Homo sapiens: one gene and its partners. The protein of the gene in region 3 interacts with the protein of the main gene of each other region in a pairwise test. Each region holds a gene or a part of one and is shown on either strand. Other genes may lie near its edges.

Region 1 (3,500 bases), on a different chromosome or scaffold from region 3:
TTAGAAAAGTGCCCAGTTCTCAGGGAATACTGACCATTAATCTTTATATGCAAAGTGTTAAGTTTTCTACAGGATAATTAACATACTGTATCATACATGAACCAAAAATAATTCATACATTCTAGGCCACTCAGATACAGTTGATAAAGTCTATGCAGTGATGCGGTTGATAAAGTCTCTGCAGTGGCTAAAAATTATAGATACTGAAGTGAAAAAATCATTTCCACTCTTATTTCTATAGGACAAGATAACATAGTATGAAAAATATAGCTCCTAATACAAATAAGCAGAAGAAAAACAAGACAAAAATATTACCACTATAAAAAAGAAGAAAGGCAAAAAGTGAATACCAAAACATTTTAATGTTTTCAAAAAGGTATTGGGTTTTTAATATATAAAACATTAAGGTCATAGAAAATGGTAATAAAATAGTATGAATATAAGAGTGCAAGTGTGAGTCATGAAAGGAAAAGAAACGTAACTGTGGCTACTTTAGGACTCAGATCAAAATGGCATGGTACCAAATGGAGTCCCAAGTTGAAATTTTGAAATGCCCCCAACAGAAATATTTCAAAGAAATTCTGGTTCCAGCCCAGTGACCCCAGAAAGGCTTTGGCCCCAAATTTTGTTAGCCCTTCAAAGGCCCCTAGCACCACTTAGTAGTCAACAGCAGAGCTGTGCTGTCCGACACGGAAGCAACCAGACATCTGTGGCTAGCAAGCTCTTAAAATGTGGCCAGTACGAAATAAACTGTGCTGCCTGTAATCCCAGCACTTTGGGAGGCCGAGGCAGGTGAATCAATTGAGGCCAGGGGTTCGAGACCAGCCTGGCCAACATGGTGAAACCCCGTCTCTACTAAAAATACAAAAATTAGCCAGGCATGGTGGCAAACCCCTGTAGTACCAGCTACTCAGGAGGTTAAGGCATGGGAATCACTTGAACCCAGGAGGCGGAGGCTGCAGTGAGCCGAGATCAAGCCACTACACTCCAGCCTGGGCAACAGAGCGAGACTCTGTCTCAGGAAAAATAAAAATAACTTAAAGAATAAATTGCACTGTAAGTATAAAATACACACCCAATTGTCAAAGACTTAGTACAAAAAAAGTCAAGTATCTCACTAATAATTTTCATATTGGCTCCATGATGAAATAATTTAGGTTAAATAAAATACATTATAAAATTTAATTTATCCTGTTTCTTTTTCCATTTTGAATATGGCTACCAGAAAAAAATGTAGGTTACATATGTGGCTTACATTTGTGGCTCATACCATATTTCTATTTGACAATGCCAAACTAGAGAATAAGGCCAAAAAATGAATCCTATTAAAATATAATTATTAAATACTAACTTAAGGAGATGGGATACAAGAAAAGACACAGATTAAGAAGCAAAAAAAAAAAGAGCTGTACCATATGGAAATAAATACAAATTTAAAAGATAAAATATAATATGGGAATAATCAGAAATGTAGATAGTAAGCTGTTCTTTCTAACTGCACTTTGCTAACCAGCCAATATCTAATTCAGAATCAATTTTTTCCACTTACATCATTTCCAGCCTAACTCTTTTTCTAAGAATTCTCAACTCTTTCTGATTTTCAAATAACTATTTTCTTAATGAGCAATAAATGGGCCACTTCAGTGAATTATCTAAAAATATCTGTAGTAGGGCCTCCAGAAGTTCCTCAAATAAAATTCCTTCCTAACAACGACATAGAAAGGAACATTAAAAGCAACTTCATCTGACTATTACTTCACAGAGGCCACTCTGAAAAGCCTCTACATTCATAAAATATTCATCAGCTAAGAAAAGTCAGCAAGTTTCTGTCACTTTTCTTAACATGCCATACATTTTGGAAACACTCTGCTTCCCCTAATTTTTTTTTTACCTGTAGTCTTGAAGTAGAAAATCCAACACTATAGAAACCTTGAAAACCTTGGCATAATCATGCAAACAACCATACTTTCTCACAGCCTCTAAAAAAGCACACCTCAACCCAGAACTTCCACAGCTGTCACTTGGCAGAAGTGTTTTTTTTCCTCCCTTAACTTCATCAGGGGTATTTCTTTACTGAAAAAAAAAAAAGATATCTTTCATGACATTACCCCATTTTCTTTGCAGAATAAGAAAACTAATTTGTCAGGTCTCCAGTGACAACTGAGGGGCCACAGAAGCCGCCATGGGGTTGACATATTGAAATGGCTTGTTTAATGAACACTGAGAAATTAAGACATCAAGTGCACACAACAAATAAAATTGGGTGGGACATCTAACAAAAGCCCTCCATTTTCTAGAGGAGGGGCCACACGGCGCCGTTTTGGAAACCCATCTCGGAGCGCCCCACTGCCTCCGCGGGAAGGTCCGACGCACCCGGCTGTCCCTGAGGGAGGCAGGATGGAGCAAGGGCAGGACACTGGAGGTGGTGCCCAGCAACTCCGGCGCGCGCTTGCTTCCCAGGCTGGAAACCTTGGCCCAGGCTCAACCTGTCTGAGCTGGACCAGTCCAGGCCACGCGCCTTGGAGCCCTGCTAACCAACAGGGACAGCCGCGACCCTAGGTCGTGCGAACACCTGGGGTCCCGGATCTCCGCTTGCCTGCCATCATCCCCCAGGCTGCTTGGCTGCTGGCTCATCTGCCCGCACCGTCCGCCCCGCCGACTGAGCTCCCCACAAAGCACACAGAGGCGCAGAGCCAGCGCTGTTGGAGTCTTTTATTGTGTTCTGTCACCGAGGTCGCAGCCCCGAGCCAGGTGGTTGGTTACCAGCCAAGCGAGCGAGTGCGCCCGCTCTTCGGGGCTCCTGGGTGCCACCCGGAGGTGTCCTGTTGGTTGCGCTGATTAGAGCCGTCGCCCCCTCTCGGGCGGCTGGTCCTCTTATTAGGCGGCAGTGCAGGTGGCAGTGTGGACAGCACACCGCAGAGACAAGCTCAAGAAGACCACACAGCACTGTACGGAATGCATTAAGCAGAATACGAAAGAGCTGGACCTGAGAGCTGGGAAATGGACAAACCTCAGGAGAAAGGGGCGTTTCTCTGAAGGAGAGAAACCACCGGAGAAAGCACGAAGCGCAGGGAAAACAGAGCAAGCAATAGAAGCAAGAAAGATGTGTTTTTTCCTTTCTCGAATTTTGCATTGTCACTCGGTGAAGGGGAAGGGAGCCTTTTACCTTCTGCCTCAATGGAAGACAGGAGCAGGGCCGCGCCCAGGGCGGCAAGCGCTGGGGGAAGCCTACTCCGCATCCTTGGCCTCCGAGCTTACAGCGGCATGAAGAGATCTGCGGGAGGAAGTAGTGACTGCATCAGAACTGGGTCTGGGCAGGCCTTGAACCAGGTTAGAACTGGAGCCTGGACCTAGTCCAGAACCCGACCAGATCTGCCTTAAAAACCACAGGGCCTACTCCAGCACATAATGGGCCTATTGTGAAGCAGTGGAAGTCAAGTTCGTCTACAGAAGTTTAATCATGGCCCTAGGAGGAAGTTCAAGTTTAAAAAGGGTCCTGT
Region 2 (3,500 bases), on a different chromosome or scaffold from region 3:
AGATCAACGAACACTTAGTATACATACCAGTCAGCTATAGTTTCAATGACACAATGAAAACATTAGGTACTATAGCTTTTTTTTTTTTTTTTTTTTTTTTGAGACAGAGTCTCGCTCTGTCGCTCAGGCTGGAGTGCAGTGGAGTGGTTGCTAACTGCAACCTCCACTTCCCGGGGTCAAGCAATTCTCCTGCCTCAGCCTCCTGAGTAGCTGGGATTATAGGCGCCTGCCACCATGCCCAGCTAATTTTTGTATTTTTAGTAGAGATGGGGTTTCACCATGTTGGCCAGGCTGGTCTTGAACTCCTGACCTCAGGTGATCCACCCACCTCACCCTCCCAAAGTTCTGGGATTACAGGCGTGAGCCACTGTGCCCGGCCAGTATTATAGCTTTAGGACAAGGTCACATATTTATTTAAATAGCAGCCATTTAATATCATGCTCTGTGATGTTTAGCTATGCAATCCACCCACAACAGCTTTTAAACTTACGTTAAACCATGGGATGAGAGGCGGACAAGTTGTTTTGGTCAGAGAAGGAAATACTCAAAAATGTCACAAAAGGCATTTCAAATATGATGACATACTACTTAAATACCAACCATGCATCTCTTTTTCAAATTAAAAGAGAAAACTTTTTACATATTCTATTTCTTAAAAATAAAGGACCATGTGTCTTTTTTAACTTAGAAACTAGTATTTCATTTCTCCACACTGAAATGAAATTTCAATGGCAAGCAGCAAATAATGTAGGATAGTCAGTGAAAGTATCTTTGTTAGGAGCATATAAAAACCAAGGAGTAACAACTCACAGAGAAATAATAATAGGCAAAAACCAAGAGGCAGTTTGACAGTTCTAATATAGAACTTGCATGACAACTTCCTTTAAAGTATAGTAAATAAAGAATGGCAATATAAATTAGTTATCTAAGGAGATACAAGACATTCTGAAGCAGCATTTTCAGTTACTTCATTTTTCAGAAAAACAAGTTTCACCCATCAACATGGAATTAAGACTTCCAGTCTTCCAAATACATTAGAAAGTACAGTTAATCACAGTAAAACTTGCAAATAACCAAATTTAGTTCTGGCCTCAGCCAGGACTATTCACATATTTGAATTTGTTTTATTTTCATCCTTCCTTGTTATACAAATGTTTCTATTTTAAAAGCATATAGAAATTTACAAAATTTGCAAGAAATATCTTTTTAAATGTACAACTTCAACAACTAATAAAAATATGAACATCCAGATACAGTTAAGTTTCAAGTCGGGATTTTTTTTTTATGATGGGTTTATGAAAAATTAAAGAAATACTTTCTTAAGTTTCAAACATCTGGGTACTGGTGCTATCAAAGTGATTTCACTGCCCTCAGTGGCCACCGTGATAACAGTTGACTCTCGGATTGCTGTACCTCATATGTCAACACCGCAGACGGAGGCAGGAAGTGGCATGTTCAGTGATTTTGCTAATTATACTTACGTAGATGCAGCTGTATGGTTTAATGCTTATATGAAAGTTGCATGAATTTGTGTAACATTTAGTTTTAAGATGGTATCTTTAAATAGATACCTTAGCTGTTAAAACTAAGTGATATATCTGCACTATATGCTCAACAATAAAAAGGAACAAACTAGTGATACATCCAAAGCCTTGGATGGATCTCAAGGGAATTATGCTGAGTGAAAAAAAGCCAGTCTCAAGAGGGTATATATTGATTCCATTTATATAACATTCTCAAAATAACAAAATGACTGAGATGGAGAACAGTAAGTGGTTGTCAGGGATTAAGGAGAGGGCCAGGGAGAGAGGTGGCAATGATTATGAGAGGGCAACACAGGGGGATGCTTGTAATGGAAGTCTTCCGTGTCTTGCCTGTGGTGGTAGTCACATGAATTTACACACAGGGCCAGGCGCAGTGGCTCATGCCTTAATCCCAGCACTTTGGGAGGCTGAGGTGGGAGGATCACTTGAGCCCAGGAGTTTGAGGCCAGCCTGGCAACATAGTGAGACCCCATCTCTATTTAAAACAAACAAAAAAAGAATCTACACACATGATAATATTGCACAGGACCAAATACATACTTCACCTCAGGGAACCTATGACCTTCCAGCAACAATCTTGTTGGCCTGTCTCCACAAAGTCCTCTAAAGATGATCAATATATGCTTCAAATCAACTTTCTGCACTATGCAGAGAAGCCACTACTAGTATTTTTTTATTCTTCGTTTAAAAAAAAAAAACACTCTCTTGATAAACCACAATCTCTAGCTTAAATGAGCTTGGAAATCACAAAAGGAAATAAAAAGCTGCCATATAGCTACTAGTATTTTTGTCTGTCTGTATTTTTGTAAATTAAGGTAAAAGATAAATTAAATGTTCCTAGCTTAAATTAGGTCAAATCAGAAGGAATAAAGCAGATTATATAGCAAACACTTGCTCCTGACACCTGCAGTTTCTAAAAGCATTAGGAATATTTTTATTAAATTCAGAGAAAGCATAATTGCGAACAAATACATGACTTTCTCCCCAAAGGCCACTTTGTGATAAAGTACATACATATAGTGTTCATGGTTTCTTTAAAGTGCTAGATTGTCTCTGGCTTGAGAATCATCTATTGCTTTAAAAGGTCTTTCAGCACAACCCCAGCACTGTTGTCAGGTAACGCTGGCAAAGGTGTAAATGTGGGCAAAACATCTGAGATGGGTTTCAGAAGAAGATGCCCGGGCCCACCAGGTCCAAGTCCAGCTGGGTTAATAAGAGGTACAGCTGCCGAGCGAGGAGCCAAAAACGGATTTACATCTGTTCTTCTACCAGACCTGGATTCTGCTGTATCTAAAGAATAAAATATGGATTTAGTCTCCTATCTTTCACAAAGAAGTCAAAATGAAATAACTCTGAATGTAATAGCATAAAGTTATCTGTGTAATATTGTTAAATTGATTAGCATAGATAAATAAAAATAATCAATGTATCACTTATCAACTTAAAAATTCTCCCTTGACGGTAATAACACTGGCATCCAGCACATCTTTTTGGACTGGTCTTTATTCAAAATGAAAACGCAGCCAGGCGCGGTGGCTCATGCCTGTAACCCCAGCACTTTGGGAGGCTGAGGTGGGCGGATCACCTGAGGTCAGGAGTTTGAGACCAGCCTGGCCAACATGGTGAAACGCCGTCTCTACTAAAAACACAAAATAAAAAATTAGCTGGGCATGGTGGCGGGCGCCTGTAATCCCAGCTACTTGGGAGGCTGAGGCTGGAGAATCACTTGAACCTAGGAGGTGGAGGTTGCAGTGACTGGAGATCGCACCACTGCACTCCAGCCTGGGTGGCAAGAGCAAAGCTCCATCTCAAAAACAAAAAATTAAAATTAAAAAAAAAAATGAAAGCACAAACAGGCCTCAATTCCTAAACACAAATACTAATTTGTATGGCTAAAATCTGACTAATGTTCACTCTTGGTAATTCAAAACATTTTCTGATAAAAAAACAATGCTA
Region 3 (3,936 bases):
CTTTCTCCATTTTGTTTTATCTATTCTAGTCCTTTGTCCTTCCTTTTACATTTTTGAATAATCTTTTACATATCTACAAAAATCTTGCTGGGATCTTGATAGGAATTGTGTTAAATCTGTACATCAATCTGGGGAGAAATGGTATATTTATTATGCTGAGTCTTTTAATCTATGAATACAGTATTTATTTAGATCTTACTTTCCTCCATGTCAAGGTTTTTTCTGCATTAGTCCTAGTATCGGGCTGGGCGAGGTGGCTCACGCCTATAATCCCAGCACTTTGGGAGGTCAAGGTGGACGGATCACAAGGTCAGGACTTCGAGACCATCCTAGCTAACACGGTGAAACCCCGTCTCTACTAAAAAATACAAAAAATTAGCAGGGCGTGGTGGCAGGCACCTGTAGTCCCAGATACTCAGGAGGCTGAGGCAGGAGAATGGCATCAACCCGGGAGGCGGAGGTTGCAGTGAGCCAAGATCGCGCCACTGCACTCCAACCTGGGTGACAGAGCAAGACTCCGTTTCTAAAAAAAAAAAGTCCTACATATCTTTTCTCCATTTTAGACTAACATCTCTCTTTTTATTTTTTGTGTAAGTTTAAATGATACTGTACTTTTATTTTGGTTTCCACGTTAATTGCTAGTATAAATACAACTGGATTTTATGTATTAAACGTGTACATTCTTGCTGAACCTAAAGTTCAAGATTTTTTGTGGATTCCTTGGGATTTTCTATGTCAACTATTAAGTCATCTAAAAAAAAAAAGGACAGTTTTATTTCTTCCTTTGTGGTTTGTAAGCCTTCTATTTCCTTTTACTACCTTATTGATTTGGCTAGAAATTCCAGTACTATCTTAAATTACTATAGTGACAGCAAACACCCTTGCTTTGCCCTGAATATTCGGGTGAAAATATTGTGTTTCACCATTAACTTTGATGCCAGCTATAGATTTTTTTGTAGGTGCTGTTTATCAAGTTGAAAACGTTTCCCTCTATCATTCATTTTCTGAGTTTCTTTCACGAATGAGTGCTGAATTCTATCATGTTTTTTTCCTAGTAGCTTTTTTTTTTTACCTACTGACAGGACCAATTACACTCATGACTTTCAAACATTGATCCAACCTTGTAGCCACAAAATAAACTGCACTTGTTCATGGTGTATCATTCATTCTCTCTCCCTCTATTCTCTTTTTTGCCTTCTCGTGGGGTAAACATTTTTTATAATTTCATATTTATTTACCTACAGTATTTCTGAGTTTGCCTGTTTTGTATAACTTTTTAGTGGTAGCTCTAGGTTTTACATTATACATTTACAGCTTATTGTAGTCTACTGATTATCAACATTTTACCAGTTCACATAAAGTATACAAATCTTACTTTCCTCTATGCTTCTTTACCTTTCCCCATTTATAACGTAATCACAAATATTTCCTACACATACACTGAGAACCACACCACGGTTATGCTTCAAATTCCAAACACAATTTAGAAAATAAACGAATACTAAATTGACCGATATTTTTGCTGTCCATTCTTTGTTCTTCCCTCCTGATGTTCCCACATTTCTTTTGTCATTTCCTTTCTGTTTGGAGAATTTCCTTTATTTGTTATTTTCATAGAGTAGGTCAGCTGGAGATAAATCATGTGAAGGAAGTTTTCACTTGATATAAAATTCTGAGTTGATAGTCCTTTTCCTTCAGCACCTGAAAAAAATGTCCTGCCACTTCCTTATGCCCTCCACAATTTCTGATAAGATCCACTGTCAGGCCAGGCACAGTGGCTCATGACTGTAATTCCAGCAAGCGTGAGGGAGGCCGAGGCGGGCAGATCACCTGAGGTCAGGAGTTCAAGACCAGCCTGGCTAACATGGTGAAACCCCGTCTCTACTAAAAATACAAAACTAGCCAGGCGTGATGTGGCATGCCTGTAATCCCAGCTACTTGGGAGGCTAGGGCAGAACTGCTTGAACCTGGGAGGCAGAGGTTGTAGTGAGCTGAGATCACACCACTGCACTCCAGCCTGGGTGACAGAGCAAGATTCCATCTCAAAAAAAAAAAAAAAAAAAAAAAAAAAAAAGATCCATTGTCACTCAAATTGTTTCCCACTACAGGTCAAGTGGTATCTCTCTTACTATGCTTCTGTCTTCAGTTTTCAGAAGTTGGCCTGGATGTGTCTTAGCATCTTTGTGTTTATCTTCTCTGGGTTTATGCTGCTTCTTACGTCTGAAGGTGTATGGCTTGCCAAGTTTAGGAAACATACAGCAGTGATTTCTTCAGACACGTTTTCCCCCCACCCCGTCCTTCTCTCTTTCTAGACCTCTGATGACAGATGTTGCATCTTCTGTTAAAGTCCCACGGGCCCCTGAGGCTCTGCTCACTTTTTTCCAGTCTATTTTCTCTCTGCTGTTCAGATTGGGTAACTTCTATTGTTCTATCTTCAAATTGACAGCTTCTTTTGTCTGTCCTCTCCTTTCTGCTGCTAAGCCATCCACTGAATTTATTTCACATATTCTATTTTTCACTTTTGAAATTTTGTGTTTCTTTTTTACATCCTGTATTTTCTTCCTGAGGCTATTTGTCGTTTGTCTCGAATGTTAATTGGTTATTGAAGCATTTCTACAATCGCTGCTTTAAGGTCCTTGTCAAATAATTCTAAACTCTGTGTCATCTCTACGTTGGCATCAGTGGTCTTTTCTTACTGAGGTTGAGATTTTCCTATGAGTGATTTTCCATTGAAATCCTGACATCAGACTCAGGATCTGATGTAAGTCTTCTGTTAGAGCAGGCCTCTGCCAGGTGGATGTGGACGGTGAGGTGGAAGTTGAGATTCCCACTCAGCCTCCACGGACCCCTGCATGAGAAGGAAAGTTCAGCCTCCTGCCGAACTTCCACTCCCACCACCAAGGCTGAATCAGGGCTGCCTCCGTGCTGCTCCCTATACAGTCTCCCCCACACCACAGGGGGGTGGCCTCATGACCACAGGGCAGCAGTAAAGTTCCTGAGTTTTGCAAGGTCCCTCTTATGATACCCTAGCAGAAAGGAGGCTGTGCTCTGTCACCACCCAGCAGAAGTAAAACCCCAACTCCTCAGCCAGTCTTCTCTGACAGCAACCCTGCAGAGAGGAGCATCTCATCCCAGCTTGTCATGAGTGGGAATCTGAAGTACCTGCTCAGCCTCTGATTAGCAGGGTGAGGGTGGTGCTGCAGGGTTTCCTGTGATATTTAGCTGGAGGAAAGTACTTACCGCCGAAAAGTTCTCTGATTAGCAGGGTGAGGGTGGTGCTGCAGGGTTTCCTGTGATATTTAGCTGGAGGAAAGTACTTACCATCGAAAAGTTCTGTGATTTGTAGGCTGCCCCTTTCCTGGTCTTTCAGACACAGAGAGCAGGCTTTTCTTGGGCCTTGTTTTGTCTGAGTCCTTTTATACCTGCGCTGCTAGCTTATCCAGCACAACATATGAGATACATGAGGCAAAAAGAAAACTCACAGAACTAAGTTTGGTGTCATTTCTGTGGTCCCAATGTACGAAGGAAGTCTACCTTCTTTTCTCCATCTTTCAGTCTCTTTTTTTTTTTTTTTAACAGAGTGTCGCTCTGTTCCCCAGGCTGGAGTGCAATGGCACAATCTTGGCTCACTGCAACCTCCACCTCCTGGGTTCAAGCAATTCTCCTACCTCAGCCTCCCAAGTAGCTGGGACTACAGGTGCCCAACAGCACATCTGGCTAATTATTGTATTTTTAGCGGAGACAAGGTTTCACCATATTGACCAGAGTGGTCTCTAACTTGTGACCTTGTGATCTGCCCGCCTCAGCCTCCCAAAGTGCTTGGATTACAGGCGTGAGCCACTGCACCCGGCCCACTCTTACATTTGTTTTATATATGTCCAGTGTTTTTAGATGTACTTCATGGGAGGAATAAGGAAAAATAAGTCTCCATCTTTC
Region 4 (3,919 bases), on a different chromosome or scaffold from region 3:
AGCATAATATAGCTTTTGGTTTTATTCATTCTTTAGAGGACATCTTTGGGTTTCTTAAGCATTGCAGGCAATTGATGGAAGATTTTAAAATCAGTGGTAGTGGCAGTCTCAAAGTGAATTATTGTCCTGAGTCCTGATACACAGAGTGGAAAACTTAGTTATCTAAAGGACTGCCCTTGAGGCCTACTGTCCTGAATGCATTTTTAGTTAGTGTTGGAAACAAGTTTCACTGGACTCCCAGTGGGGCATTCCCACCCAAGCACAAGTGCCCTCCTTACCCACAAAGTAGCTTGCCTTTTCAGTGAGTAGAGACATATACATACATACATGTGCATGCACATACGTGCGCATACACGCACATACACACACTCTCTCACTCTCTCTCGTTTTATCTCTCTCCCCTCAGGAGTGATTTGAATTAGACAATAAATAGCCAGACAGCACCCCCAGGAATGGGCACACATGCAGCAGCTGTCCAAAGGAGAAGTCACTTTACTTTCTTTTAAACTTGCAATGTTTGTCTTTATTTTGTTCTTTATATTTTCAAAGTGAAAAGAAATAGTACTGAGTCAATTTCTTTTTGTTTTTTTAAATATTTGTTCTATGTATTTACAAGCCTTAAAGTTGCTCTAAAGATTTCAAGAGTATTAAGAGTACTTTTCTCAGGGTAGCACTTTTTTTTTTTTAAACAATTCTTGGAGTTCTGTGGTCCACAGCATTTCCTTCTGTTTCAATGTTATGTATGTTTTGATTACTATTGTGATTTTTTAAATTTTCTGAAGCAAGCTGAGAGGCAGGCAGAAAGATTTGATGCCAAAAAAAAAAAAATCTTTCTTACCTTGTTCACCCCAAACTTTCTCAAATCTGGACTAAATGCTATACCTTAAAACAAACATGAGGTGCATCTTGAAGGGGAGGGAAATTTATTTCTCTGCTTTTCTATTATACAAGTTGTTTACAGAAACTGCAAATTAAAAAATTACACTGGCATTTGCAGTCCTTAAAATAAATTAAAAGTTCTCAACTTTTTTTTTTTTTGCTAAACATTTTTTTAAGTATGAGTCCTTGTTTAAAAAGAAAAGATTAAAACAGAAAATATTTTCTATAAATAATACATGTATTTTGGTTTTAGTGCTCCCGCCCTAAGGTTTGAAGTTTACTTTTATCCAGTACCTTTTTCCTCCATGATCACCTTTTTTTCTCTTTCCCCTCTCCCACTCGTGCACACGTGGGGGTTTCTGCGAGAATTGGCCTTGCTGCACTGTGATTGGCGAAGACGTGAAACTTTTTAAAAAAATACTTAAATTGTTTCTTTTGTTTCATTTTGTGTATTTGAAGTTTTAGTTATCCTCAGACTCCTCTTCTGCTTCCCGCAGCCACGTGAAGAATGCCGTGACAGATTTCAGAGCCACGCCCTTCCCATTCTGCTCTGCAGGGTCCTTGCTGCTCTCCCATTTGTAGAAGGCATCCTCGGAGATCACCTCCTCGTCATATAGACAATCAAAAAACATCCGCAGCAAATCTGCAAGGAGGTGAAAATAAACTATAAGCTTTGGGACACTGTAGTTATGAGGAAAAGAATATATTTCAAAATAATGAATGACTGAATAAATGTGCATTAATTCCCCCAGAAAAAAGCAATAATGACAATTCACCATACTTGCTCTTGACAGTATAAACAGCCCAACAACTTGTTTAAAGAAGAGGAAAAAAAGATTGAAGCAGTCTAAATTCTTTTTTATTCCTATTATTTTGTACAATTTGAACTTTTTTTCTGTTTTTTTTTTTTTTTTTTTTTTTTTTGAGAGACAATCTTGTTCTGTCCCCAGGCTGGAGTGCAGTGGTGCGATCTTGGCTCACTGCAACCTCTACCTCCTGGGTTTAAGCAATTTTCCTGCCTCAGCCTCCTAAGTACCTGGGATTATAGGCGCCTGCCTGGGTTTAAGCAATTTTTCCTGCCTCAGCCTCTCAAGTACCTGGGATTACAGGCGCCTGCCTGGGTTGAAGCAATTTTCCTGCCTCAGCCTCCCAAGTACCTGGGATTACAGGCGCCGGCCACCACAGTCAGCTAATTTTTGTATTTTAAGTAGAGAAGGGATTTCACCATGTTGGCCAGGCTGGTCTCGAACTCCTGACCTCAGGTGATCCGCTCATCTTGGCCTCCCAAAGTGCTGGGATTACAGGCGTGAGCCACCGTGCCCGGCCCAATCTGAACTATCTTCTGATACCAGTGAAGCTGTTTCATATCATGTTTATCTCAATCTAAACCCTATAAAATTTAAATACGAGTAGTTTTTTACTTTCTTTTTACTATTTTCTGCGCTGCAAGTTTACTGTATTATTTTTACAAAATTTGGGGGAAGGGAGAAAGGCAGGATATGCTTTTTATTCCTTGTAATGTTGTTTTAAAAATGAAGAGGTGGCCGGGCGCGGTGGCTCACACCTTTAATCCTAGCACTTTGGGAGGCCGAGACAGGCGGATCACGAGGTCAGGAGATCGAGACCATCCTGGCTAACACAGTGAAACCCCGTCTCTACTAAACATACAAAAAATTAGCCGGGCATGGTGGCGGGTGCCTGTAGTCTCAGCTACTAGGGAGGCTGAGACAGGAGAATGGCGTGAACCCGGCAGGCGGAGCTTGCAGTGAGCTGAGATTGCATCACTGCACTCCAGCCTGGGTGACAGAGCGAGAGTCCGTCTCAAAAAAGAACAAGAGGTGATCATTCACATGGAAAACATGAGTAAAAGCTATCTCATCTGGATTTTATCCAGTGAAACTACACCTGTTATTTACTGTTTTAAACGTCCAAACTATCCGTGTGATTTTAATTCTCGGTTTTACTCTCATAGTAAAACTGAGAATTATAGTTATCATATATAATAAGTTATTAGCTTATAGTTATTATAGTCAGCTCTCCGATCATTTATATTAATGGAGGGAGGCAGTGGAATAAACAATAAATGCTAATCAATATTAGGTTTATCATGAGTCGTATTAACTTTTTTTTTTTTAAATGGAGTTTTGCTCTTTTTGCCCAGGCTGGAGTGCAGTGGCATGATCTCGGCTCATTGCAACCACCGCCTCATGGGTTCAAGTGATTCTCCTGCCTCAGCCTCCCAAGTAGCTGGGATTACAGGCATGCGCCACCACGCCCAGCTAATTTTGTAGTTTTAGTAGAGACGGGGTTTCACCATGTTGGCCAGGCTGGTCTCAAACTCCTGACCTCGGGTGATCTGCATGCCTCGGCCTTTTTTTAAAAAGACTTATCTTTGTAATTATATTAGTTAAGCTAATATTATCAAATTATCTGATTCATGGTAGATTGTCTCTTCAGTTACACTATAAGGATAATTTGCTTTCATCTTTTCCTTTATCTCCAAGAGCGATTCAGGACTAGGAAAGAAGGAATTTTACAAAAGCGAAAATAAGGAAGTACCAAAGAACTACTTGAGTGCTCTCTCTAATAGCTATGTACTGCCCGCTTTAACAAATACCAACTGAATTTTCAAGATGTAATAAAAATCATTAGTTAACACCAAGTATCACTAAGACTTAAGTGTACAGGTTACTTTGTTTCATTAGCCAAGAATTAATCATAACCCTTAACTAAAAACTATTCTGAAACTCCTTAGTAAATATAGCATGGTAAATACACTACACTTAGGGTCTTTGTTGGGTGTCTAAAGATTCTAGAGTATCATCCTCAACATCATTAACCATTTTCATGCCCTAGACCTGTGTTGTCCAATATGGAAGCTATTAGTCAAACATGGTTATTTAAATTTAAAGTCAATAATTCAGTTCCTAAGTCACAACAGACATATTTAAGTATAGAATTGCCACATGTGGCTCATGATTACCATACTCAATGGTATGGATATATACTACCATCACTGTGGAAAGTTTTATTAGGCCTG

Evidence for each region.
Region 1: the proteins of WDR37 (region 3) and COL12A1 interact in a two-hybrid assay, tested with the Homo sapiens proteins (one large-scale study listed by BioGRID).
Region 2: the proteins of WDR37 (region 3) and TRIP11 interact in a two-hybrid assay, tested with the Homo sapiens proteins (one large-scale study listed by BioGRID).
Region 4: the proteins of WDR37 (region 3) and EIF4G3 interact in a two-hybrid assay, tested with the Homo sapiens proteins (one large-scale study listed by BioGRID).

What each region holds. Positions count from the first base shown.
Region 1 is NC_000006.12:75,199,554-75,203,053, forward strand, and holds part of COL12A1 (collagen alpha-1(XII) chain long), read right to left. Parts: intron 3,275-3,500; 5' UTR 3,240-3,274; coding exon 3,167-3,239; intron 272-3,166; exon of another isoform or gene 1-271. UniProt on the Homo sapiens protein: Type XII collagen interacts with type I collagen-containing fibrils, the COL1 domain could be associated with the surface of the fibrils, and the COL2 and NC3 domains may be localized in the perifibrillar matrix.
Region 2 is NC_000014.9:91,967,060-91,970,559, forward strand, and holds part of TRIP11 (thyroid receptor-interacting protein 11), read right to left. Parts: intron 2,835-3,500; coding exon 2,614-2,834; 3' UTR 1-2,613.
Region 3 is NC_000010.11:1,062,722-1,066,657, reverse strand, and holds part of WDR37 (WD repeat-containing protein 37), read right to left. Parts: intron 1-3,936. UniProt on the Homo sapiens protein: Required for normal ER Ca2+ handling in lymphocytes. Together with PACS1, it plays an essential role in stabilizing peripheral lymphocyte populations.
Region 4 is NC_000001.11:20,805,979-20,809,897, forward strand, and holds the end of EIF4G3 (eukaryotic translation initiation factor 4 gamma 3), read right to left. Parts: intron 1,523-3,919; coding exon 1,341-1,522; 3' UTR 501-1,340; downstream 1-500. UniProt on the Homo sapiens protein: Component of the protein complex eIF4F, which is involved in the recognition of the mRNA cap, ATP-dependent unwinding of 5'-terminal secondary structure and recruitment of mRNA to the ribosome. Functional homolog of EIF4G1.